7 linked regions of the Homo sapiens genome follow. The protein of the gene in region 3 purifies or fractionates together with the protein of the main gene of each other region. This does not show direct contact. Each region holds a gene or a part of one and is shown on either strand. Other genes may lie near its edges. The genes, in order: EVPL, ITIH2, P2RX6, PLG, PKP1, F2 and FLG.

Region 1 (3,500 bases), on a different chromosome or scaffold from region 3:
GCTGTTCTTGGGTAAGGAGTTTACACAATGCTGCAACCTCCCCAGGTAGGCTCCCCCTTGCAGCCAGGGGACATCTCTTCCTAAGATTCTCCAGGCTTCCTTGCTATTTCAGGAGCTTCACCAGAATACCTCCTGGGGTGTTGACATTGGGCCCTACTGGAACCTTCCTGAATGATCAGGCGAGCTGGGCATTATTACATCTGCTTCAGGGATGAGGAAACCAAGGCCCAGAGAGTTATGTAGTCCAAGATCCTGGAGCTGGTCAGTGGAGGAGCCAGGAGGGGAACCAGCTTGTCTGAGCCCGGGTCTGTCCACACCCTTCTCCATCTCCATCCCAGCCACCGCTCCTGCACTTGCCTCACCTCCCTCAAGTGTGAGCACCAGGGCCGGGCCGCTTCTCATCCCAGCCGCCCCTTCCCGCTGCTCACCCACCTCATGGCTGTGGATGCGGCCCTCCAAGTCCTCCAAGGGTGTGGGGCGGCTCAGCGGGGCCCGCGCCCAGGCCAGCACCTGCCTCTCTATCTGTCCCAGGTCTCCATCCAGCCGGGTCATCTGTGTCAGGAGCTTCTGGGCCTGTGGGTTGGCCAGGTCTGAGCCAGATGGAGCTGGGGGCAGAGGTGCTGGTGAGGGCCCAGGGCCTATCTCCAGACTGCCAGATAGGTGCCCCCACCAGGTGCCCACAGAGGGTCCTGTCGGGGTAGGGTGGAGGGGATGGGCAGGGCCACCCCAGAGATGAAATCCCCAGAGTGATGGTCCCTAACCCAAGGCGACCCCTGCCCATCACAGACCAGTCGGAAGTCGGAATCTACTCCTTCTAGCCCCACAGCCACCTCTCCCCGGGCCACCCTGGGTACCCTGCTGGCTGGGCCGAAGAGACTCCACAGCACTGGCCTTCAGGCGGCTCTGGACTGTGGCCAATTTCTGCTTCAGGGCCTGCAGCTCTGAGGCCAGCCTAGAATGAAGAGGAGATTGAAGAAAGAGGTCCCCACTCTGCCTCTCTCCCTCCCCAGCCCCAGTAGACGCAGCTTCAGGTGAAGGCCAGCCTTTGAGCAGGGGTCTGTTGGGCCATGGGCTTGGACACCGCAGGGCCGGCCTGCTCTGCCCACAGCCTGCCCCTGAGTATCCCTACACAGACCTACCGGGAGGCCCTGGCCACAGCATCAGGGTCTGGTGCTGGGATGCAGAAGCAGGCGGCGGGAGCACGCTTGGTCTCCCCGCCAGGGCCCTGCACGACCCAGGCGTGCGGGTCAGTGTTATCTACCAGCTTATACCGCTCACCCTGCAGCAGCTGCACCTGGGGGCACAGAAAGGGAGCAGCTCCTGAGGGCTCAGGGGCAGGGGGCCAAGGCCAGGGCAGAGTAGGGGCTGGGGACAGAGACAAATGGGGACAGCAGCTGGAACAGGGACAAGAGTAGGGTGGGAGGTGCTGGGGTAGAAAAGAGGCAGGACAGGACTTGGAGAGAGGAGGGTCTGAGTCAAGGGAAGGAGTAGGGCAAAAGTGGGCGCAGGAGACAGCTGGGGATGGAGCAGGGATGGGCTTGGGCAGGGGCAGGGGATGGGTTGGGCGGGGCTGGATGGTGGCAGGGGTGAGGTGGGGGAGTTCGCACTTCTCCTGAGTCCCAGTCGCAGATGCTGTCCACGTGCAGGGGCTGCTGAGGGGGGTTTCTTCGCTGTGGCAGAGGGGCCACATCCCGGCTTCGCCGCTGCAGGTCCCCAGTGGCCCTCTCGGTGACGGCCAGCCGTTTTTCCTCTGCCTGCCGGGGGCCCAGGCAGTGGGGGACTCAGGCCAGGCTGCATTGGAGGCTGGCCACACCATACCTGTCCTTCAAAAGGCCTAGAGGCTGGCCTTCATGAAGGCAGGGGTCTCTAAGTCAGCAAAGTAAAAGGAGCCCCTCTCTGGGGGACCTAGGATCCTGGGATCTGCTAGTTGCAGGGAGGGGGATGGCACAGCATCACCCAGGCCACCAAGCAGAAGCTAGACAGGCCTCAGAGCTCTCCCAGGCTGCCCTTGTCCCACTGCAAATGAGGAAACTGACGTCCAGAAGTGGGAGGAGCTTGCTGGTACCTGGCCAGCCTCCTGCTAGAGTAAACCCCCCTGCCAGCACCCAGGCCAGGGCTTGGGATAGGACTAGGTACCAAGGCAGAAGGGGTGAGGCCCAGAAAAATGGACAGGACCAATTCCCAGAAGTGGGGTGCAGACGGCCTGGTGGGGTTGTCTCACCTCCAGCTGTTGCAGCAGCTCTGTGGGGGCGCCAGGGGGGCCCCCAGGTGCAGGGCTGTACTTGGCATCCAAGTTGGAGTTGAGCTTCGCCAGGGTCTGGCTGACTGAGTCGGCCTCTTCCTGGAACTGAGTTCACTGGGTGGTCAAGGGCAGAGCCTCGTGCAACCTGCTGCCCACTGACCCTACAAACCAGCTGAACCTAAGCCAGCTAAACACAAAGCAGCTAAACCTAAACCAGCTAAACACAAACCAGCTAAACACAAACCAGATAAATGTGAAACAGCTAAACTAAACCAGTAACCGCTAAGCCAGCTAAACCTAAACCAACTAAACACAAATCAGCTAAACCTAAACCAGAAAAACCTAAGCCAGGTAAACCTAAACCAGCTAAACTTAAACCAGCTAAATCTAAACCAGCTAAACACAAACCACCTAAACCGAAACCAGCTAAACCTAAACCAGCCAAACACAAACCAGATAAACCTAAACCAGCTAAACCTAAACCAGCTAAACACAAACCAGATAAACTTAAACCAGATAAACCTAAACCAGCTAAACCTAAACCAGCTAAACACAAACCAGATAAACTTAAACCAGATAAACCTAAACCAGCTAAACACAAACCAGATAAACTTAAACCAGATAAACCTAAACCAGCTAAACTTAAACCAGCTAAACCTAAACTGTCACTCTCCCCTACTCTGGTCGGTCTTTCTTTTTCCTACCCAGGCGGCAGGACCTTTTATCACTGGTGTGCTCTTGCAAATGGGGTCTTATTTGTGCACTGAACTTAATTTTTTTAAGTGGGTCATAAAACACTTGGTCTTCGTCCTTCCTGCACAAATGAAGGGCACCGTCACCTGCCTCCCTCCAGCACCTGAAGTCTTTCTTGCTGGGACAGAGGGTATTGGAGCTGCACTTGTCCCAGCCCCGGAGAAGAAGCTGTGCTTTAAAGAAGCATTCCAGGTGCTTTGACGGAATTTTTGTCAACGTGTGTGATCACAGTCTTGTGGTTCTATAGGAAAATGTATGAAACATTATCTGCCCCCAAATCCCAGTTGCATATTATATCAGGGTTTCTCAACCGTTTTTTTTTTCATTATTATTCTCCTAAAGAGCCTTTTAAGAAATATTTTATTTAATTTCCCCCCACCTCATCCCCATAAAATTTTATTTATTTATTTATTTTGATAGAGATGTATCTATTTGTATAGAGACAGGGTCTTGCTATGTTGCCCAGGCTGGTCTGGAACTACTGGTGTCAAGCAATTCTCCTGGC
Region 2 (3,500 bases), on a different chromosome or scaffold from region 3:
TTCTTTCTTCACTGAGATCTGCACCCTGGTGTGAAAGTCCAAGAGGAATTAAACCATTCCAGAACAGACCTTTTGAGAAAGTCATTCTTCTCACCCCTAATATGAACTCTTCACTCCTCCCAGACAATTCCGCTAGTTATCTAAGCGCTTGCAACAGTTTATAGATAAATGATGGATTAACAGAAACTCATTGGGAAGCTTCTACGCAGAGGACACAATCATGGCGTTTGGAGCTCACTCTGCGATAGAGTCAGTATGGATTTCAGCTGGTGGATTTGTTCACTGATTAGCACATACACAGTGAGTGTTTACTGATGCCAGGCACTGGACTAGGTCCTGGGACCCAACGGTGACCAAAAACACACAGTGCCCACTGCCAGGAACAGAGTAGGGAGTGAGAACAATTTTTCTGAACCTCAACTTCCTTATATTTAAAATGATGATTTTTTTTCAATGTTGATGTCACTGATGCCTGGATTTATTTATGCAGTCGTGTGTCACGGACAGGCCCAAGTTCAGATGGAATCATACTTGCCTCTGATTCGTGACTTGAGCCGTGTCGGACCAGGACAAGGAGAATGTGCTAGAACCATGGCTCAGGGTGATGGTCTCAGTGCTGATTTCTATTTTTATGTCTTCACTTTGGAAATAAAATCCCAGTTTTCCAAAATAGGTGCTTAGTTTTCCATTGTTGGGCTTCTTGGCACCAACAAGCTGACCGTTGACTACAATTCCTACAGGAAAGAAAAAAATGATGTTTTCTCTTCTGTGCCATTTATTTTGCATGTGTGGGTACTATAATTCAAATTTATAAAAACTTGGCAATATTGGAAAATTATTATAATTTTGCTTCAAGATTTACATTAACATTTTCTTCTTTGTGATTCTCATTTTATAACATGTTAATATAACATTTATAAATTTTAATAAAATTTAATTTAATAATTTTATATCAGTTATAAAATTTAATTGTCAGTTTATAAAATTTAAATAATTGACTATCATATAGTATTTAAATTTTTTGTTGTTGTTTTTGAGACGGAGTCTTACTCTGTCACTCAGGCTGGAGCGCAATGGTGTGATCTTGGCTCACTGCAACCTCCACCTCCCGGGTTCAAGCAATTCTCCTGCCTCAGCCTCCTGAGTAGCTGGGATTACAGGTGTGTACCACCACGCCTGGGTAATTGTTTTTGTATTTTTAGTAGTGGGGGGTGGGGTTTCATCATTTTGACCAGGCTGGTCTCGAACTCTTGACCTCAGATGATCCGCCCACCTCGGCCTCCCAAAGTGCTGGGATTGCATGTGTAAGCCACCGTTCCTGGCTCATATTTAAATTAATTATATCACAACAAGATCTGCAAGTTCATACTCAGAGTATATATTTTGAACTATAATGGTTCAAAATAGTTAAGAATATATTTATAATTTAATTTCTCACTAATATCACTGAAATATATAGAACTTCTATTAAGCTGAGAAAGAAAGAAATCCCAGGCAGTGACAGGAAAGCATGACAATGACCTAATTGGTGCAAATATAATTTATTTTTATTTTACCTGATTCTGGGTCAGAAACCAGGTTGAGGATTTTTCCAGGTTCTGAGTCAATATTGAAACAAATGTTCTTTTGGCTTTTTGGTAGATAAATGATGAAATGTGGGTCATTTTCAACTGGAAAATATACAAAGAAAACGTAAACAAAATCATTAAAAGGAAGATGATTTTGAGCACTATGTCATTCCTGAACATCTTTAATTTAATCAGAACAAATATTTATTGTGCTTCTCCTACATGCTCGGTACTCCTCCAGGTCTTGGGGACCCAGTGGTTCATACTCCATTGTCCCTTTGTCACGGAGCCTTCTTCAGAACCCTATGTTATTTTACAAATATAGTGGATATTTATTTTGTAGCTAAAAATGTATGCACTAGACTAGATACTAGAGATAAAAAATGAATAAGAAAGACTTAAGGAATAAGAAATACACACAAATATGCACCCACAAATATAAGAAACATACATACACGTGTGTGAATATGTGTGTAGACAGAAAAATAGAGTTGGGTGTTTTTTGAGACAGGATCTCCCTCTGTCACCCAGGCTGGAGTGCAATGTTGCAATCATGGCTCACTGCAGCCTTGACCTCCAAGGCTCAAGTCATCCTCCCAGCTCAGCCTCCTGAGTAGCTGGGGCAACATCCATGTGCCACCATGTCTAGCTAATGTTTTGTATTTTTTGTAGAGATGGGGGGTCTCACTTTGTTTCCCAGGCTAGTGTCAAACTCCTGAACTCAAGTGATCCACCCATCTCAGCCTCTCAAAGTCCTGGGATTAAAGGTGTGAGCCGCCTCACCCAGCCTGGAGATATATTTTTTAAGGAGCCATATACAATGCAGGAAAACAAAGGAGACACACTATTATTGTTGACATACAGATTAATATGATTCAATTCCAAAAGCAATGAAGAATCAAGCTACTCCCAAGAAAGTACTCCTTTGTTATTGAACCTAATTATTTTAGATAATCCTTCCTTGCTTCCCCTCCCCTCCCGCTCCCCCATCCCCACTCTCCCTCTCCCGCTCTTTCCCATTTAACCATTCAACAAATACTTGGTGAAGGAAAAAAAAAATCTATGTGCAATCACTAAATTTGGCAATGTTTGGTGTTAACTATAAACATAAGTCATGGTCAGTAACTTCAAGAAAGTAATACTTTAGTGCAAGGGGCAGACATAATCACGAATGTAAGATAGAATGAAGTACATGGTGCAATAGTGGCTCAAGTAAAATGCTGTGAGAATGAAGATGAAAATGATTAGTGCCCCCCAGGCAAACAGCAAGGCTGAATGGAGGAGGTGGCTTCTGAACTGTCTTTAAGGTCAGAGGACAGCGGGGAAAGACAAAAGGCTAAGGAGGAAGAGATTTTATTCTGAGTGTACAGAATGAGGAAGGAGTGGAGGTAGAAGAGTTTATGATTTCTTTAGAAAATAACTCAATGCGACCAGAGGACAGGTTCTTGAAGAATGCAGAGAAAAAGAGCTAAAAGTAGAGATCACAGAGACCCTGAAACACCAAGAATGGGCCTTTATTCTGTTGAGCAGCTATTAAAGGTTTCTGAGAATAAATGTGACTTGACCCTCATTTTAGGAAAGTTGTTGGTGGCAGTGTTACTAAAAGTTTGCAGAGGAGTTACAGGAAGCTTGTGCAGTGGCTAAAGCAGTCACTCAGGCCAGAAATGTTCAGTTCACACCTCCAGGTTCATGCTCTGCAGTCCACAAATACATGGTTAGTTGATTGTTCTTGGAGCCAGACACTACAGGGCATTGTAAAAACACAGAACAGGCCAGGTGCGGTGGCTCACGCCTGTAATCCCAGCACTTTGGGAGGCTGAGGCGGGTGGATCACGAGGTCAGGCATTCGAGACCAGCCTGGCCAGCATAGTGAAACCCCGCCTCTACTAAAAATACAAAAAATTAGCCGGGTGTGGTGGCGGGCACCAGTAA
Region 3 (3,344 bases):
GGCATGGGGTCAGGCTCCCCACGTCTGCTAGGTGGCAGATCCAGGGAGCAGAGCTTGGGCCCCAAGGAGGCTGCCTAGAAAGGGCAGCAGGGTTCTGAGCATGGCATGCACCTGAGGCCTGCCTGGCACAGGCACCCCCACGGGGACACATGCATCCCTGCAGGCACTACCCTGGGGTGCATGCCTGTGCGCAGACTGAGGCGACAGCTGTTTCTGAGCTCGGGCCCAGGCTGCAGCTCTCTTGCTGTCTTTGCCCACTCTTCAAGGGCTTTGAGGTGAAAAGAGTGTGGCCCTCATGCTCCTACATGGGTGCACAAGTGCCCAGGCCTGTTCCAGTTACCTTCTAGCCCACCTGGTAGCTGCAGGGCCTCAGTCTTCAGGGGTAGGGTCCCCAAGTCCACCCTGCACCACCCCACTGGTCTCTTCATGGCTGTGCCATGTCTACCATAGATGCCCCCCAACTTTCCAGTCATGCCTGTAAGGACTACACAGGAAGAGGGTGGCTTTGCTGGCTTTACTCCGTGACTTTGTCCAGCCATGACATCAGCTTCCTCTGGGCCCCAAGGAGAATCAGGTGCACGTGCCCCTCCTTGGATACCCAGGCCTCAGGGGCCCTGCTCTCCCACCTTCGCCCTTCAGAGCCCACCTCCCCATGGACATGGCTCTGGAGATTGAGAGGCAGCAGGGACCCCAGGCATTTTACTGAGGCTCCAGGTGGCAGGTGATTCTAGATGTCAGCCCAGTCTCAGCCCCACCCCTGGCCCTCCACAGCTTGCCCTGATCACCAGGTACCCACAGTGGAAAGCAGCCCCTTGCCTCCCTGGGGTGGACACTTAGAATTCCCTGCCCCGCCCTGGGACCAAGAGGAGAATTCCAGCTGCAAAACCTGGCCAGCCTGAGGGAGATCTCGGTGGTGTTGTTTGGAACCATTCCTTCCAGCCACTCCATCCAGCCTGGGATCAGAGCCAGGGCCTCCCTCGAGCAGCTGCCCAGACAGCTTCCTAGGTATGACTTGGACTGAAGTGAATTTCAGATGTACAGCCTCCCACAGCCTCCCACCCCCAGGGCTCTCAGGAAGCCTGGAGGAAAGATTCCAAGGGGTTGGGCTGGGGGGTTACCGAGGAGGGATATAGAAGGTCCTGAAGAACCCAATGATCACCAACTTAGCCCTGCCGCCCTCTGCTCTCTCTCCCAGACCTCCATGGCAAAAGGGCTACCACTGGAAAGCAGCCGGTCCTCATAAACTAAGCAGGTGTGGGCCCAAGACACATGCTCCGCCCTTGCCTGGGGGATAGGGAGGTGGATTATCTGCCTACTCCACCCCATTCCCTAGATTAGGACTCTCCTGGGGCATCACAGCACCAGAGAAGCTGAAACAATCCCCCTCCCCCATCACTCCTCTTTCTACCTTGCCTTTTTGGCTCCAGCTGCACAGCCCCATGTAGGACCGATGGGAGGGTGGGGTCTCTACCTATGATGGGGGTGCAGATGGGGGAGGAGGGCCAGGACCCAGGCAGCAGGAGGGTCTGTGCTGACAGCTGGTAAGCATACCTCTGCTAGGAACACTGGGGACAGAGCACTGGGAGAGAGACCTCCAGGCCCAGACGCAGCAGGAGCCCCTGCCACATGCAGTCGGAGCCCTGCAATACAGGTGCCTGCTGGGCTCTCCCAGTCTCCACGGGTCAGGTTCTGTCGCCGTCTCAAAACACAGCCGACTTCTATGGCTCCCTGAGGCAGCACCCTACCAAGGTGGGAGTCAGGGGAGGGACTGTCTGCTGGGGTTCAAGGGTGGAATTCTACCCCCAATCCTCCATGCTGGGGCCTCATCCTTGAGATCCCCAGGCAGGGCCCCGCCCTTCCCAGCCCCCAACTCTCAACCAGCAGGGAACGGCTACAGGCTCCCGGAATGGGTTGGCAAGTGGGTGTCAGAACTTGGACAGGGCCATCCTGGTGTCTGTGTCTGACTCCCAGCAGCAGTGGCCGTGGGTGCAGGTGCTGAGCTCCGTCTGAGGCACTCGGCCAGTCGGGCTTGGGATGCAAGGGCCAGCTCCCTCCACACAGAGTTGGCGGTTGCTTTCGGGGCCTTGGCCTGCAGATGAGGACAGCAGGTCAGGGATCCAGCCAACATCTTCCTAAGTGTGGCAGAACCCAGGGTCCAAGCAGAGCGACCTCAGCTCACCTCCTCATACTTTGTCCTCCAGTAGAAATGGGCTTCTCTATCCACATACAGCAGTAGCAGGTCACAGAAAAAGGTGACCTGGGAGAGGCAGGGCCAACCCATGTTCCAGCCCCCGAGCCTGCTCTCCTGCCACCTCCCCAGCCTGCACCCCGAGACTCAATGTGCAGGCACCGGAGGCTCCAGCATGCATTGGACACACCCTGGTCAGCAGCACTCACTGCAGCCTGCAGGTGCCCACAGTGCTCGCACTCACCACGCCCAGCCAAGCTGCCCCGGTGCCCAGTGTGACGGCCGTGGGGATGAGCCCGAACTTCCCTGCCTGAGAGAGATCTGAGCTGAACCTCTCAGCCCACGACTGTCAGCCTCATGCCTCCTCCAGCCCTGTCTGCCTGCCCCATCCCATCCCCGGCCTGACCCCTACCTGTGCCTACCTGCCCGGTGACGAGGATGTCGAAGCGGATTCCATAGAGCTTGAGCAGGGTGCGGGCCTCCACACCCGGTTGCTCCCACCAGTGAGTGGCTGTCCTGTGGGCAGGAAAGAAGGCTCTGGTGACCTGCTTTGCCCACCCCCAGGTGGGGCTGGCCCTGCCAGACCTCTGTCCAACTTGTCAATTGACTCTATAAACCCCCAGCCCAAGCCTGAGTCCTGGGTCTCAGCCCTATGTAATTGGTGAGAAAACAGAAAAAGCAAACGAAGACCTGTCCCTCAGAAGTTCCCTGCCTGCTGAGAGGACGGGGGACAGAGGAGTCCCTAAACAGACCCAGCAGCGGGGGATGTGAAGGGGCAGGCTCAGGGCTGAGGGATTCCAGAGATGGGAACTCACTCTTCCCTGGGAACTGGGGTAGACTTCCTGGAGGGGACATGAGGCTGGGCCTGAAGGAACATGCACACAGGTGGTTTGCCAGCACAGAGGTCAGGGGAACAGGATGTGGGTGGGAGCCAGCCCCACGTGGTTTCGAAGGGCTGGGGAGGTTGGGGAAGCCAGATCAGACGGGGTGCAGTGAGCTATGTTGAGGGGCATCATCCCCAGGCCTGGTGGTCGTGTGTGCCTGCCTGCATGACGAGGTGACGCTCGGTGGCAGAAGGATCCAATAGATCTGCTTAGAAGACTCAAAGACATGATAATAAATGCAATTTATGAAACTTGAGGCCAGGCACAGTGGC
Region 4 (4,133 bases), on a different chromosome or scaffold from region 3:
TATTTTTTTTTCCCAGAGTACTTTCTCAAGCACATCAACATGAGCCCCCTAAGAGACATTTCACATTAAAAATAAAATGTCTGCCCACTGCTGGTTTCTCAATCTGCCTCCACCTTCTGTCCCCTTTAATGAACTGGGCCATGAGGTGAGTCAGAGAGGATAAAGGGAGTGGTAAGAATTTGAGGAGAGAAGAGAGTGAGGCTAAAATAGGAAATCAGGAAAAGCGATTCGGTCCCCCTGTCCCTCACATGGGGCCACCCTCTTGTTGCCCAGTGTGGCTTCTTCTTGAGGGTTCTGCATGGTTCCTCAATCCCAGGGAATTCCGCAGGACATTCCACCCAAGACCATTGGGCTCCCACCTCTACTCTTTTGCCAGTTAATGAATAGGCAGGAATTTCACTGCCTGGAAAGAGGAACAATGCTTTCTGGTCCTTATTTCACATCTAAAATAGAGAGGTCAATTGATTTATTCCTAAATATCTTTGAACACTAAAATAGAAGTTTTACAGCATATATACTACCTGGTTGCTCTAGACTTAAGCCAGGGAAAAGTACAGATTCAACATTTAAAATTGAGATAGACGCTTTCCACTTAATGCTACCAGTCTTGCTTTATTTCATGAGAATGAGAATATAATAATATGGCATACGTTCATTTGGGGGAAAGATTGATGTCTTATAACATAATTTATAATTACAGAAAACATGTGAGTTCACTGGGAATAAATAAATTTTGAAGATAATAAGATACTTTCACTTATGTCGTAATTTCTATGTCATTTGGTGTAGGATGTAGAGATATTAACGTTTACACCTAACTTAAGTTTGTCATCTAAGACCTGAAGGGGTTTTGTCTATCAGCTGCACCCCTGGGTAGAGACACAACCTTGGGGAAGGCCTCAGCCCCATCCCTCGTACAGCAGGAATGAGAACAGCCCTGCCTGTTGGGAAGCTTGAGGGAGGCTATGGACGTGCAGCGCTTGGCAGAGGGTCTCGTCATGGAAGGTTCCAGCAAATGTGAGATACTTTTATGATTTCATTTTCTCCAAAAGAAAGGGAATAAGAGAAGAGGGGAGGAAATAAGACTAATTGCGAGAGATAAAGTACAAGGGTGAGGGAAGGAATAAGGAGACATGACGGCAGCGTGGAGCAGCCGAGGGGGGAGATTGCTTTCACCACTTCCCAGCATCTATTGCAGATTCCACCCTCAAACATGTTGTAAGGACTCTTTATTCAAGGTAATGTTTGAACCCTGCTGAGCCAGTGGCATGGGTCTCTGAGAGAATCATTAACTTAATTTGACTATCTGGTTTGTGGATGCGTTTACTCTCATGTAAGTCAACAACATCCTGGGATTGGGACCCACTTTCTGGGCACTGCTGGCCAGTCCCAAAATGGAACATAAGGAAGTGGTTCTTCTACTTCTTTTATTTCTGAAATCAGGTAAGACATAGTTTTTTTAAATTATAAGAATTATTTTTTCTCCCACAATGTAGTAAAAATACATATGCCATGGCTTTATGTGCAATTCATTTAATTTTTGATTCATGAAACTTCCAGTTGAAAATCTTGTATAAGATTGAGGAATTCTTCAAGAAATAAGTTTAAGTTTCCTGTGAAGATTGTCAGGGTGCTGGAATGAATGGGCAGAGAAAATAATGGGTGATTTTTCAAATCTAAATGAGTGCACCCACATAATGGCCAGTCTAATTGAAAAAGAGCCAATGTAGCTAATTATGCAAAGGACGGCTAAGCTCTTTGCCTGGTTCTCAGTTTGACTAATTTATATCATCTCTGTTACGGTGTCATGCTCCCCTCACTTGCAAGTTAAAACAGTGAAATATCTCTTTGAATATATTCCGTTCTCTCACCAGTTCATGGTGGCGGCAGGGTCGGGGACTCAGCATTTCTCCCTTTGTTATGGCCTGAGGAAGGCTTTCCATCAGTATACGTTTGCCTCTTATCCCCGGAAAAATCACACGCATCCATTTGCCAGATGCTGTGTGCAGATAGTGATCAACAAATACTCAGTTGCTTGGGTTAGGTCCCTACATTTTTACACATACATACATACCTGTGTGTGAATGTGAGTGTGAGTGTGTATCCTTTACAAATACTAGCTTATTTAGCTCGTGGTATAGGTAGGGTAGCATATTCATCCTCATTTTATAAACAAAGAAATCAGACTTAGGAATATCATGTTATTTGCTCAGTGACCAAATTCTCAGATCTGGGAAATAAAGAAAACTGGATTTAAGCCAGGTTTCCCAGAAGGAATCTAGGGCTCTTCTCACTTTTCAGCTTTGTTTAAGCCTTTGAAAGAATATTCTAAACATGTCCTAGTACTTCTTTTTCTTTAAAAAAAAAAAAGCTTTATTGAGATATAATTAACATATAGAATTCACCCATTTAGGCATACAATCCAATGGATTTCAAGATATTGAGAGTTGTGCAGCCACCATCAGAATAAATTTTAAAACTATTCATACCCCCAAAAACGCACTCCACTCTCCTTAGCTGTTACCCCCAATCTGCAGCTTCTGGCAACCACTAATCTACTTTCTGTATTTATATCTTTGCCATTTTGAACATTTCATACAAACGGAATCATACGATTTGCTAGTAGTTCTTCATGTAAATAATGTACGCTTGAAATTCAATCTATAAATTACCAGATAAAATTTTACAAGTTGCACTTTAGAGTCAAATACATTTGAATTTAGTGGAAGCCATTCAAGGAGCTATCAAAGAAAATACAGAGCAGGAGAAAATTAAAGAAATTTTTGTAAGAAATTGGTGTATGTTGGGGGGTATGAATATTATATTTCAATGCATGGAAACTAGGACATAGATCACTATGAACTTATTCAGTGGGCTACACCCAAAGGCTAGATCAAACTTCTCTGCCACAGGATTAACATATGTTTTAACCCACCTGGTGGGCACATTCTCTCATAAGCTCTTTTGGAAAGCCAGGTTTTCTGTGGATGTATCATCTTTCCAGTGTGCTGCAATGCCCGGGGAGAGGGAAAAGTTTCTTTTACAGCCATGCTTAGTGGGAAGTGGAGAAACATCTTCCATTTCACAAATTAAGTCTTTTACACATGCAAATATGCATACACATTCACACACCACAGTGAGGAAGAAATTCTCACACCATTAATAAAATACATTTGCATCAGTAGCAATATACATCTGCATTTTGCCTATAATATAAATGTATTTTTCCACTAAAAGATTTGTTTGATGTTTCCTTGCCAGCAAATAAGCCCTATCAAATCCTATTGCCATATGAGTCCTAGAGGTGAATAAGAGAAGAAAAAATGGGGGAAAATTATTTCAAACTGAAAAGAGAAAAGTTTGATTCTGTTTTGGGATATTTCCTAGGGACATGAGCTGGGGAGGGGATCTCAGCAGCGATGCGCTATGAAGCATAGTAACATAACACAGAGAACTTAATTGAAGGGGGAAATAAATGGAAGTTTTCTTTTTTTGAATATCAGTTGTAGCCTGCTCTGCTATACTTCAAAAAAACTCTTCAGAAAGTTTAACTGAACTCACTGTAGGACACACTTTGTGGATTTATTGTGTGTTTTGAAGTCACACTGTGAGCTATATAGAATTAACCAAAACACAACTCTTCTTGAAAATGAGAGTTCAAGTTGGCAGAAAGTGCGGGGTAAAGACATGGATATGGGCCTAAAGCATCTATTTCTTTGTGATCTTTTGATATATCTCTCAAGTGCTTTTTAGTGGATTAGCTTTAGAATGCATCAGCCAACTCCTGCTCAATAATCCATTTTTCCAGCCCGGAATGTCTTAAATTGAGGAAGGACAAAGTCCCAGAGGTGGGGAGCAGGGGGACTTTGGCCGAGGACTTTGCATGAATCGATGAGCATGCATCCACCTCCCTGTCCTGCCCCTTGTGCTCTGTGTACCCTCAGGAGGTCAGGACAGGCCTTTCTGAGAATGAAAATCTGTTCATTTGCTTTCCTACTGGATACTTGTCATCAGCATACAAACCAATGCGCTCTGCAGTGTGTCATCTTTCAGAACCTCCCCTGACCGCATGTTCCCTGGAGGGCTCGCTGTCTTCAGAGCCAGGCTTGTCTCCTGCTGCAGCCTCCACTGCT
Region 5 (3,500 bases), on a different chromosome or scaffold from region 3:
GGAGTTGCTGGTATTGCCAGTGTGGCTGGTGAGGAGCCTGGTCACCTCCGGGAACACCTGGTTCCCTGGGAGAGGAACGAGTTGGGGCACAGGGTCAGGATGACTGGGGAAGGAAGGGCTGAGGGGTTCCCTCTGGGGCCACACTCTTCGATAGCCTTCTGCCGGGCTCTGAGCCAGGTGGCCCTCAGGGCTTCCTGGCAGCTCCAACTCAGGGCTCAGAGACCCAGATAGGACTTTTGCAGATCTGCTCCCAGCCCTCAGGTGACAGGCTCCCTTCTCCTGTCTCCATACCTGTCTTTGGCCAGCTTCCTTTCTTGGAATGCTCATCCCAGGGAATGGCTTAAAGGATGACCTTCAAGCAGGCTTGAATTGTAGGGAGCCTGCCATGTCTTAGCTAGAGGGGGAGGAGAGAGAGGGACCTTACCCATCACTCTGTGCAGCAGAGGGTGGCGGGACATGTTGCTCAGGAGGGAGGCTCCGGACCGCACCACATCAGAGTTGCCAGATTGCAGGAGGCGGGCAATTTGTGGCAGGCCCTTTTCCTTCAGCCCAATCAACTGGCTCATGCCACTGGACATCTAAGAGAGAAGGAGTAGATGATGAGCTAGCCTGTGGCTTCCCAGGCACCATGGCAGGCAGAAAGGGGCAAGGAGCCCCAAAGGCAGACATCCCAGAACCCTTTCTCTTTCATATTGGAAGCACTAGCTCACATGTGGGCAACTACAGAAACCTAGGCTAACATGCACCTCCCCTTTCCCAGCCCTGATCCTGTCTCCTGGATCAGCCTGCAGCCCAGATGGGTGGAGAGAGGGAAGTCTCATTTCCCCTACTCATAGTGACCCAGAGTTAGCTTCCAGAGTAACCCAAGCGTCCAATGCTGCTCTCTCACCCCACTGTCTCAGCGCTGCCCCCATTACATCTCCCCACGCTATCTGCCCATGTGAAACTATATGGTCAAGGGTATTTGTCAATTAAACATCTGGCCATCTTCTTCCAACTTTCCTACCTCTTTAGAATCCAACACATATTTGTTGAGGGCTTGCCTGAGAAAAGAGGGCTAAGAAAGGGTCTGGGCCCACATGGAGAGAGAACTGGGGTCCCCTAGAGGTAGGCCAGTTCGCCCAGGCCTCTAAGCAACATAGCTATCCTGGGTGTAACAGGTCTAGGTGGGTTTGGCATTCTCAGAACTGCCCAGCCTCTCTCCTCACAGCCAGGGAAGTTCTCTGCCCTCGGTCTACTCTAGTGCTGCTGCTGCTCGGTTCCCTTTTCCTAAGTAAAGCTGAAGAACAGTTGGCCGCCTGGCCCATCTCAACTCTTCTTGATTGCAACAGGTTTCCTCTGGCTCTGCCCCATACCACTGTGCCCTCCAAGCTACATACATTTGGCCTCAACATCTGCACGGATTCTGTCACATCTTCTCTGGACCTGCTTGGACCCCAAACCCTCTTTTTCCACCTTTGTCAGTTCAACAAATGGGAAACTCCTTTTGCCAAACACCTTCTCCGCCGCATTCCCCGACCTCAAGCAGAGCCCAGGAGGCCAGCTGGGGACCGGGAGCCATGTGGCCAAGGGGATTGTGTGTGCATGGACAGAATCCAGCATCAGTGGGCCCACCCTCTCTGCATCCCCCAGCAGCTCCTAAAGGGCAGGAGTGTTTCCCCATTGCCCAGCCCAGAGCCCAGCATATGCCAGGCACACTCTGCTCATGGGAGGCTCCGAAGTCAGGGGACAGGCTGGGGGGAAAAGGAGGGAGCAGAGGCTGGACGGTGGCTGGAGGATGGGGCTGCTGCAGTAGAGAAGGTACAGTCCCACTCACCAGCCCCTTGCTGGCTGTCAGGTTCTGCAGGGCACCAGCACAGGCCTCCAGGGTAGCATCTTTCTTGCTCTTGCCCATGAGGTTCAGGTAGGTGCGGATGGCATCTGAATGGTACAACCAGCCGCTGCCCTTGGGGTTGGTCTCTTCCTCAGGCAGGGGGCAGTCATAGTTGTTGTTCTGAGGATAAAGAGCCGGTCAGGGGGGTCAATGGGGAGCCTTGTGAGAGGACACAACCCAGGCATTCTGTCCCCATCCCCCCAGCCTCAGGGTCGTGGTTCCAGATAGGGCAAGCTGAGGAAGCGCCTGCAGAGGCAGGGGGCCCAGGACAGCCCCGCTGCACCCCTTTCCTCTATGCACTGCAGCAGCTCCATGGGATGCAGGAATGGGCCATGGTCCCCCAGACTGTCCCAGGATGTGGGAGAAGAGAGCATCCTGGCATCTTGGGAGCTGTGTTCCAGGGCAGCCTTGGCCCAAACCTTCCAGATATGTGGGGCTGCTTTGGACTCTCCCATCATGATGCTTCCTCCTCTTCCAGACTCAGACAGTAGGTTTGACCCACCCTGGGCCAAAGAGGGTGGTCTGAGACCTGGATTCCACAGCTGGGCCCAGTGAAGGAGACCTGACAACCCATCCCTGGTAGGCTTCTGCTTCTGGGGAAACCTGGCAGGGCTCAGGAGATGGTGGGAACCAAGGCCAGAAAGAGTGAGAGTTCTGGCTTTCCTCAGATCCTCAAGGGCAAGGGAGAAGATGGGGGAGACTTGACCCACTATACAGGAAGAAAGACCAAGGCCTGCAAACAGAAGGCTGGAGTTTTTGACCTCTAAGGTGGTCTGAGCCCCTACAGTTCCAAGAACAGATTCCCCCTTGTGCAAGATGAATGGCCTCTACCCAGCTCCCAGAGTGCACCCTGAGCCCCAGGCCAAGGTGTCAGCATGGGCCTGTCCCTTAGGGCTGGCTTCAGGCTCCAGGAGGGCCCAGAGGAAAGGGCAGATGAGGCAGTGGCTCCTGGGGGGGTGCTTGATGGGGCAGGCCCCGCCCTGCTGATGCTGTGCTCACCATCATCTTGTCGCTCTTGTTGCTGAAGCAGCCAGTGGAGGACTTCTCGGTGTAGGCGTTGCGGGCGTTATACTCCAGCTGGCGGTAGCGGGTGGGCACCTCGGCGTCCAGGCGGTAGGAGAGGTTGTGCAGAACACACATGCAGTTTTCCACAGACTGGGGACCAAGGAGAGGCATGGGCCTGAGCCTCTGCCCGGCCCGACAGGCTCCTGGCCTACCACCTACCCTAGCTAATAAGAGAGCAGAGGCACCTGGGCTGCATCGGGAAAGATGAGCGCAGGCACCACCACACTATCAGCCTGGGAAGTCTTCCAGGGCCACCTCTGGGACCTGAGTTTGAATCTGTCATTTCCTGGCTGCATGAACTTGACTGGCCTCACTTCTCTGGGCCTCAGCTATCTCAAATGTAAAATGAGACTACAATTGTCCATTTCACTAGGCTATTTGGAAGATGATACAGAGAAAGCACTTATCACAGGGCCTAGTGTGTGGTAGGACTGCTATGGACAACATGCCAATGGGCAGACTGGGATATTGAAGAATGTGTCTTTTTTTTTTTCCAGAACAAACTCCTCCAGAAGAAGCCCCATGCCTCTAGATTCCAAAGCCATCTAGTGCCCCCATCATT
Region 6 (3,500 bases), on a different chromosome or scaffold from region 3:
AGGTCAGGGGTTCGAGACCAACCTGGCCGACACGGTGAAACCCACCAGTCTCTACTAAAAATACAAAAATTAGCCTGTAATCCCAGCTACTCAGGAGACTGAGGCAGGAGAGTCGCTTGAACCCAGGAGGTGGGGTTGCAGTGAGCCAAGATCGCACAACTACACTCCAGCCTGGGAGACAAGAGTGGAACTCCGTCAGTAAATAAATAAATATAAATAAAAAATAAAACGCCAGTACTGAAAAGAACTTTTGGGTTCACTCCAAGAAACCGAGGCCTGGAAAAGGGAAAGGGGCTCTTGCAAGGCTACTTGGTATCAGAGCCAGGCCCAGAACTTGGCTTCTGCCCCTCAGCTAACAAGCATCTGGTGGCCCACCTGGCTGCCGTCTCCCTGTCGGGCAGACACACAGGGTGAATGTAGTCACTGAAGGCAACAGGCTTCTTCAGCTTCATCAGGGCAATGTCCCGGTCCAGGTTCTCCCGCCAGTTGTACCTGGGGTGGATGTAGATCTTTTCCAACATGGATATCTTTTCAATGTTTCGCTCGTACCTGCAGAGACCCCAAGAAAGAAATGGAGAAGCTGCAGGTTCACCCAGCAAGGAGCAGGAAACTGCCTGCCCTTGGGGTCTGGGAGACAGTGTGTCCTGCAGGCCACCAGGGAGGGGATAGGGCTGGTTCCTGCCATGGCAGCCCCCTGGGTGTTTCTTCCTGGGCCTAAAGCCGTGCAGGGCTTTGGAGTCAGACAGCCTGGAGGACGGGGACAGGGGCACAGGCTGCACGCCCTAGTCCAGACAGACTCTATTTTCAGAGACTCCCACATGGGCTATATCCTAGTGTTGGAGGGACCAGGAGACAGACGGATTTCTCCCCGCAGCTCCAAGCCTCAGTCAGGACGTGACCAAATGGGCTTTCCAGCAGAGACTGCTGGGATGTTATATTCTGGGGGGTATACAGAACATCCTATGTGTCCCGGAGCCACCAGGGCCCCTCATGATCGCTTTGGAGGACTCAGACCCCTGCCAGACACCCACGGGCCACCAGTTCTGTACCTGGTGCGGGAGTGCTTGCCAATGCGCACCAGAAGGTCATTCTCGGTGAAGTTCTTGTCCCAGGGCGGGTACAGGAGGCAGTGGGCGGCGGTGAGGACCCAGCGGTCACTGATGAGGCTGGCCCCACACAGCAGCTCCTGGGGACTCTTCCGGAAAAGCATCACCTGCCTGGGAGGGGCAGCAGGAAGCATTAGGAGCTGAGGATGAGGGGGCTGCCTCTACACCAGCCCTAGAAGTAACAATCCCAGGTCTAAGAACCCAGCTGGGCAGAGCTGCCTCCGGGGCCCAGATCCAAGCTTGGGCTGGCCGCCTTTGGGGCCTGGAGCCTCCGTGTGATGCTGAGGGGCTGCCTCACACTTTTTTATTTATTTATTTATTTATTTTTGAGACAGGGTCTCACTCTTGTCACCCAGGCTGGAGTGCAATGGTACAGTCACAGCTTACTGAAGCCTCAGCCTCCTGGGCTCAGGCGATCCTCCCGCCTCAGCCTCCTTAGTAGCTGGGACTACAGGGACATGCTGCTACACCTGGCTAATTTTTGCATTTTTAGTAGAGACGGGGTTTTACCATTTTGCCCAGGCTGGCCTCGAACTCCTGCCCTCAAGTGATCTTCCTGTCTTGGCCTCCCAAAGTGCTGGGATTACAGGGGTGAGCCACTGCACCTGACCTGCCTCCTGCTTTTTGCACCCCCTAACTAGGTCCTTCCAGTCCAGAGTTCACATAGCGTAGCACAGCTCTGGAATCAGAAGAACTGGATTCAAACCCATTAGCTGTGCGCGGAGGTGAGCCACCAGCTCCGTCAGTCTCAGCTTTACCATCTGCTTAGAAGTAAAGGACCCATGGGCCGGGTGTGGTGGCTCATGCCTGTAATCCCGGCACTTTGGGAGGCTGAGGCAGGTGGATCACTTGAGGTCAGGAGTTCAAGACCAGCCTGGCCAACATGGTGAAACCCTGTCTCTACTTAAAATACAAAAATTAGCCGGGTGTGGTGGCGCATGTCTGTAAATTCAGCTACTCAGGAGGCTGAGGCAAGAGAATCGTTTGAACCCGGAAGGCAGAAGTTGCAGTGAGCTGAGATCGAGGTAGTGAGCCGAGATTGCAGCACTGCACTCCAGCCTAGGTGACAGAGCAAGACTCCATCTAAGAAACAAAAAAAAAGAAGTAAACAACCCATCTCATGTGGCTGCTGTGTGGAGTTGGTGGGATCCTGGATGCTCAGCTGTTGTCATCTGTAAAGCCCAGGCCTGCAGGCAGGGCCTGAGGGTGGGGGTCCAGCAGCACACCTGCCCCCAGGAGTGAATGGTAGCGCAGGGCTCCAGGACACACCAAGGTGACATGCCGATCTCTGCATCCGAGCCCTCCACAATGCGCCCGTCGATGTAGGATTCCAGGAGCTCTCTTTCGGTTTTGTCCTCCAGCGACTTCTTCTCGAACAGAGGTCGCAGCCCACAGTCTGCAGAGCAAGCCAAGCAGTGAGGGGCAAGTCCTGGCCACCAGCCCCGCAGCCCCGCATCCCCTCGGATGCCCACTACCTCACCTGCCTCTCCCGAGCCAAAGGTCCTCGGATTGAAGAAAGTCTGGTACTCACTGGTGGCGGTACGCCCTTCGATGGCCCTGTCTGAGTCCTCATCCAGCCCATCTCCTGTCTCCTCCTCCACGGCCTCCTCTGTTGGGACCCAGGCACCGGCTGGGACTGGGCTGGGCCATTCCTCACCCATCCCCTAGATCCCCCCAATTCCCCTACGGGCCTTGGAGGCCATTTGGTGCAGAGGTTAAGCGTGCATGCACAGTTGGGCTACTAGGCAATAACCTCCTGGGGCCTCAGTGTACTTATCTGTGAAATGGGCACAGGACCTTACCCCCCACCTGGTTACTGTAAGGCTGTAATGAGCGCACTCAATGAGGTAAGCGTTCGATAAGCAGAAGCGGCTGTTGTTATTCCCACCAGGATTTGTCCCTGCAACTCAGGCCCCCTACCCAGGCAGCTCACCACAATAGTTGAGGTCGCAGTACCCAAAGTCGCCAGGCTTCCCGGCCACATAGCACCACACGCCCTCCTCATCCCCGTCTGGGTTGCGGCAGAAGTTCTCCACCAGCTGCACAGCTGAGTTGAAGTCCTGGTGCTTGCTCAGGGCCTTGGCCTGTGCGCTGGCCCAGGCCAGGCAGGGGAGCCCATGTGTGGTCACCGCCAGGCGCCCCTGGTACTGCTGCCCCCGATCAGGGACACACTGCTCCAATGGAGGTGACAGATTCACACTGGAGCCTTCGGAGCGTGGAGTCATCGCTACAGTGACTTGATCCTGGCCTGGTGGGTGAGGGGCAAGGAGGCAGCAGAGTGAGTGAGACCACACATGGACCGGAACAGACAGGGGTGTGAACCCCGGTCTTGCTGCTTTCTGCCTGTGTGACCTCAGGTTACTTAACCTCTCTGGGCTTCTGACCGTTTGCCTT
Region 7 (3,287 bases), on a different chromosome or scaffold from region 3:
GTCTGCTGACTGCTGGTGGCGGGATCCGTGTCTCTCTCCTGGACTTGATCTTGCCTGTTCATGGGATGATGCAGCCTGTCCACCAGAGGAAGTCTCTGCGTGACGAGTGCCTGATTGTCTGGAGCGGTCTGCAGAGTGCCCGTGACCGGCTCTGTCTTCGTGATGGGACCTGGGGTGTCTGGAGCCGTGCCTTGACTGCTCCTGAACAGATCCACGATGGTTTCTGGAAGCAGACCCAGACCACCTCTCAGAGTCTTCTGAATGTCCCTCACTGTCACTGTCCTGGCTCACACTGGATCCCTGGCGCCTGCTTCTCCTGGACCCCTCTGATTGTCCCTGGACTGCCTGTGAGTGTCTAGAGATGTCGGCATGAGTGGAAGCTTCATGGTGACGTGACACTGAGTGCCTGGAGCTGTCTCCTGATTGTTCCTCATTACGTGTTGTTCTGCTTGCACTTCTGGATCCTGACTGCCCACGGGAGGCATCAGACCTTCCCTGGGATGTGGTGTGGCTGTGATGGGACCCTGAGTGTCCAGAGCTATCTACCGAATGCTCGTGGTGGTACCCCTGCCTTCCTCCTCTGCTTGACCCCGGGTGTCCACGAATGGTGTCCTGACCGTATTGGGATGCTGAGTGCCTGGAGCTGTCTTGTGCCTGCTCATGGCGGGATCCTTGTCTTCCTCTAGTGCTGGGCCCCGTCCATCCATGGGAGGACTCAGACTGTTCATGAGTGCTCACCTGGTAGAGGAAAGATCCTGAATGTCCAGACGTTTCCCCTGACCGGCCACGTGCGGACTCTTGGTGGCTCTGCTGATGGGACCCAGCCTGTCCGTGGGCTGACACTGACTGTGTGTCTGAGTCTTCTGAATGTCCCTCATTGTCACTGGCCTGACTACCACTGTACCCTCGGTGTCCACTGTCTCTGACTGCAGATGAAGCTTGTCCGTGCCCAATGCCTGAGTGTCTGGAGCTGTCTGCTGACTGCTGGTGGTGGGATCCATGTCTTTCTCCTGCACTTGATCTTGCCTGTTCATGGGATGATGCAGCCTGTCCACCAGAGGAAGTCTGTGTGTGACGAGTGCCTGATTGTCTGGAGCTGTCTGCAGAGTGCCCATGACCAGCTCTGTCTTCTTGATGGGACCTGGGGTGTCTGGAGCCATCTCTTAGCTGCTCCTGAGCAGATCCATGATGGTTTCTGGAAGCAGACCCAGACCACCTCTCAGAGTCTTCTGAATGTCCCTCACTGTCACTGTCCTGGCTCACACTGGATCCCTGGCGCCTGCTTCTCCTGGACCCCTCTGATTGTCCCTGGACTGCCTGTGAGTGTCTAGAGATGTCGGCATGAGTGGAAGCTTCATGGTGACGCGACCCTGAGTGCCTGGAGCCGTCTCCTGATTGTTCCTCATTACGTGTTGTTCTGCTTGCACTTCTGGATCCTGACTGCCCACGGGAGGCATCAGACCTTCCCTGGGATGTGGTGTGGCTGTGATGGGACCCTGAGTGTCCAGAGCTATCTACCGAATGCTCGTGGTGGTACCCCTGCCTTCCTCCTCTGCTTGACCCCGGGTGTCCACGAATGGTGTCCTGACCGTCTTGGGATGCTGAGTGCCTGGAGCTGTCTTGTGCCTGCTCATGGCGGGATCCTTGTCTTCCTCTAGTGCTGGGCCCCGTCCATCCATGGGAGGACTCAGACTGTTCATGAGTGCTCACCTGGTAGAGGAAAGATCCTGAATGTCCAGACGTTTCCCCTGACCGGCCACGTGCGGACTCTTGGTGGCTCTGCTGATGGGACCCAGCCTGTCCGTGGGCTGACACTGACTGTGTGTCTGAGTCTTCTGAATGTCCCTCATTGTCACTGGCCTGACTACCACTGTACCCTCGGTGTCCACTGTCTCTGACTGCAGATGAAGCTTGTCCGTGCCCAATGCCTGAGTGTCTGGAGCTGTCTGCTGACTGCTGGTGGTGGGATCCATGTCTTTCTCCTGCACTTGATCTTGCCTGTTCATGGGATGATGCAGCCTGTCCACCAGAGGAAGTCTGTGTGTGACGAGTGCCTGATTGTCTGGAGCTGTCTGCAGAGTGCCCATGACCAGCTCTGTCTTCTTGATGGGACCTGGGGTGTCTGGAGCCATCTCTTAGCTGCTCCTGAGCAGATCCATGATGGTTTCTGGAAGCAGACCCAGACCACCTCTCAGAGTCTTCTGAGTGTCCCTGACTGTCACTGTCCTGGCTAAAACTGGATCCCCAGTTCCTGCTTGTCCTGGGCCCCTCTGATTGTCCCTGGCCCACCTGCGAGTGTCCAGAGCTGTCGGCCCGAGAGGAAGCTTCATGGTGACGCGACCCTGAGTGCCTGGAGCCGTCTCCTGATTGTTCATCGTTACGAGTTTGTCTGCTTGCACTTCTGGATCCTGAGTGCCCATGGGAGGCATCAGACCTTCCCTGGGATGTGGTGTGGCTGTGATGAGACCCTGAGTGTCCAGATCTATCTACCAATTGCTCGTAGTGGGATCCCTGCCTTCCTCCACTGCTTGACCCCGGGTGTCCATGAATGGTGTCCTGACCCTCTTGGGACGTTGAGTGCCTGGAGCTGTCTCGTGCCTGCTTGTGGTGGGATCCTTGTCTTCCTCCAGTGCTGGTCCCGGTCCGTCCATGGGCGGACTCAGACTGTTCATGAGTGCTCACCTGGTAGAGGAAAGACCCTGAACGTCCAGACCTTCCTGCTGACCGGCCACGTGTGGACTCTTGGTGGCTCTGCTGATGGGGCCCAGCCTGTCCGTGGGCTGACACTGACTGTGTGTCTGAGTCTTCTGAATGTCCCTCACTGTCACTGGCCTGACTACCACTGGACCCTCGGTGTCCACTGTCTCTGACTGCAGATGAAGCTTGTCCGTGCCCAATGCCTGAGTGTCTGGAGCTGTCTGCTGACTGCTGGTGGTGGGATCCGTGTCTCTCTCCTGCACTTGATCTTGCCTGTTCATGGGATGATGCAGCCTGTCCACCAGAGGAATTCTCTGCATGATGAGTGCCTGATTGTCTGGAGCTCTCTGCAGAGTGCCCATGACCGGCTCTGTCTTCGTGATGGGACCTGGGGTGTCTGGAGCCATCTCTTGACTGCTCCTGAGCAGATCCATGATGGTTTCTGGACGCAGACCCAGACCGCCTCTCAGAATCTTCTGAGTGTCCCTCACTGTCACTGTCCTGGCTAACACTGGATCCCCGGGGCCTGCTTGTCCTGGGCCCTGATGATTGTCCCTGGCCCACCAGTGAGTGTCTAGAGCTGTCGGCCC

What was found.
Region 1: the proteins of P2RX6 (region 3) and EVPL purify together in Homo sapiens (affinity purification with mass spectrometry; one large-scale study listed by BioGRID and IntAct). This does not show direct contact.
Region 2: the proteins of P2RX6 (region 3) and ITIH2 purify together in Homo sapiens (affinity purification with mass spectrometry; one large-scale study listed by BioGRID and IntAct). This does not show direct contact.
Region 4: the proteins of P2RX6 (region 3) and PLG purify together in Homo sapiens (affinity purification with mass spectrometry; one large-scale study listed by BioGRID and IntAct). This does not show direct contact.
Region 5: the proteins of P2RX6 (region 3) and PKP1 purify together in Homo sapiens (affinity purification with mass spectrometry; one large-scale study listed by BioGRID and IntAct). This does not show direct contact.
Region 6: the proteins of P2RX6 (region 3) and F2 purify together in Homo sapiens (affinity purification with mass spectrometry; one large-scale study listed by BioGRID and IntAct). This does not show direct contact.
Region 7: the proteins of P2RX6 (region 3) and FLG purify together in Homo sapiens (affinity purification with mass spectrometry; one large-scale study listed by BioGRID and IntAct). This does not show direct contact.

What each region holds. Positions count from the first base shown.
Region 1 is NC_000017.11:76,017,307-76,020,806, forward strand, and holds part of EVPL (envoplakin), read right to left. Parts: intron 2,348-3,500; coding exon 2,222-2,347; intron 1,755-2,221; coding exon 1,608-1,754; intron 1,295-1,607; coding exon 1,140-1,294; intron 953-1,139; coding exon 855-952; coding exon of another isoform or gene 789-854; intron 606-788; coding exon 433-605; intron 1-432. UniProt on the Homo sapiens protein: Component of the cornified envelope of keratinocytes. May link the cornified envelope to desmosomes and intermediate filaments.
Region 2 is NC_000010.11:7,741,316-7,744,815, reverse strand, and holds part of ITIH2 (inter-alpha-trypsin inhibitor heavy chain H2 precursor), read right to left. Parts: intron 1,671-3,500; coding exon 1,557-1,670; intron 735-1,556; coding exon 536-734; intron 26-535; coding exon 1-25. UniProt on the Homo sapiens protein: May act as a carrier of hyaluronan in serum or as a binding protein between hyaluronan and other matrix protein, including those on cell surfaces in tissues to regulate the localization, synthesis and degradation of hyaluronan which are essential to cells undergoing biological processes.
Region 3 is NC_000022.11:21,025,165-21,028,508, reverse strand, and holds the end of P2RX6 (P2X purinoceptor 6), read right to left. Parts: intron 2,705-3,344; coding exon 2,611-2,704; coding exon of another isoform or gene 2,601-2,610; intron 2,499-2,600; coding exon 2,433-2,498; coding exon of another isoform or gene 2,258-2,432; coding exon 2,180-2,257; intron 2,090-2,179; coding exon 1,892-2,089; coding exon of another isoform or gene 1,783-1,891; 3' UTR 501-1,782; downstream 1-500. UniProt on the Homo sapiens protein: May act as a modulatory subunit rather than a functional channel. Unlike other P2XRs members, P2RX6 does not seem to form functional homotrimers.
Region 4 is NC_000006.12:160,700,911-160,705,043, forward strand, and holds the start of PLG (plasminogen isoform 1 precursor), read left to right. Parts: upstream 1-1,333; 5' UTR 1,334-1,394; coding exon 1,395-1,443; intron 1,444-4,133. UniProt on the Homo sapiens protein: Plasmin dissolves the fibrin of blood clots and acts as a proteolytic factor in a variety of other processes including embryonic development, tissue remodeling, tumor invasion, and inflammation. In ovulation, weakens the walls of the Graafian follicle.
Region 5 is NC_000001.11:201,321,506-201,325,005, reverse strand, and holds part of PKP1 (plakophilin-1), read right to left. Parts: intron 3,029-3,500; coding exon 2,873-3,028; intron 1,994-2,872; coding exon 1,817-1,993; intron 579-1,816; coding exon 425-578; intron 66-424; coding exon 1-65. UniProt on the Homo sapiens protein: A component of desmosome cell-cell junctions which are required for positive regulation of cellular adhesion.
Region 6 is NC_000011.10:46,725,713-46,729,212, reverse strand, and holds part of F2 (prothrombin preproprotein), read right to left. Parts: intron 3,355-3,500; coding exon 3,040-3,354; intron 2,716-3,039; coding exon 2,587-2,715; intron 2,503-2,586; coding exon 2,376-2,502; intron 1,218-2,375; coding exon 1,050-1,217; intron 550-1,049; coding exon 376-549; intron 1-375. UniProt on the Homo sapiens protein: Thrombin, which cleaves bonds after Arg and Lys, converts fibrinogen to fibrin and activates factors V, VII, VIII, XIII, and, in complex with thrombomodulin, protein C. Functions in blood homeostasis, inflammation and wound healing.
Region 7 is NC_000001.11:152,304,953-152,308,239, forward strand, and holds part of FLG (filaggrin), read right to left. Parts: coding exon 1-3,287.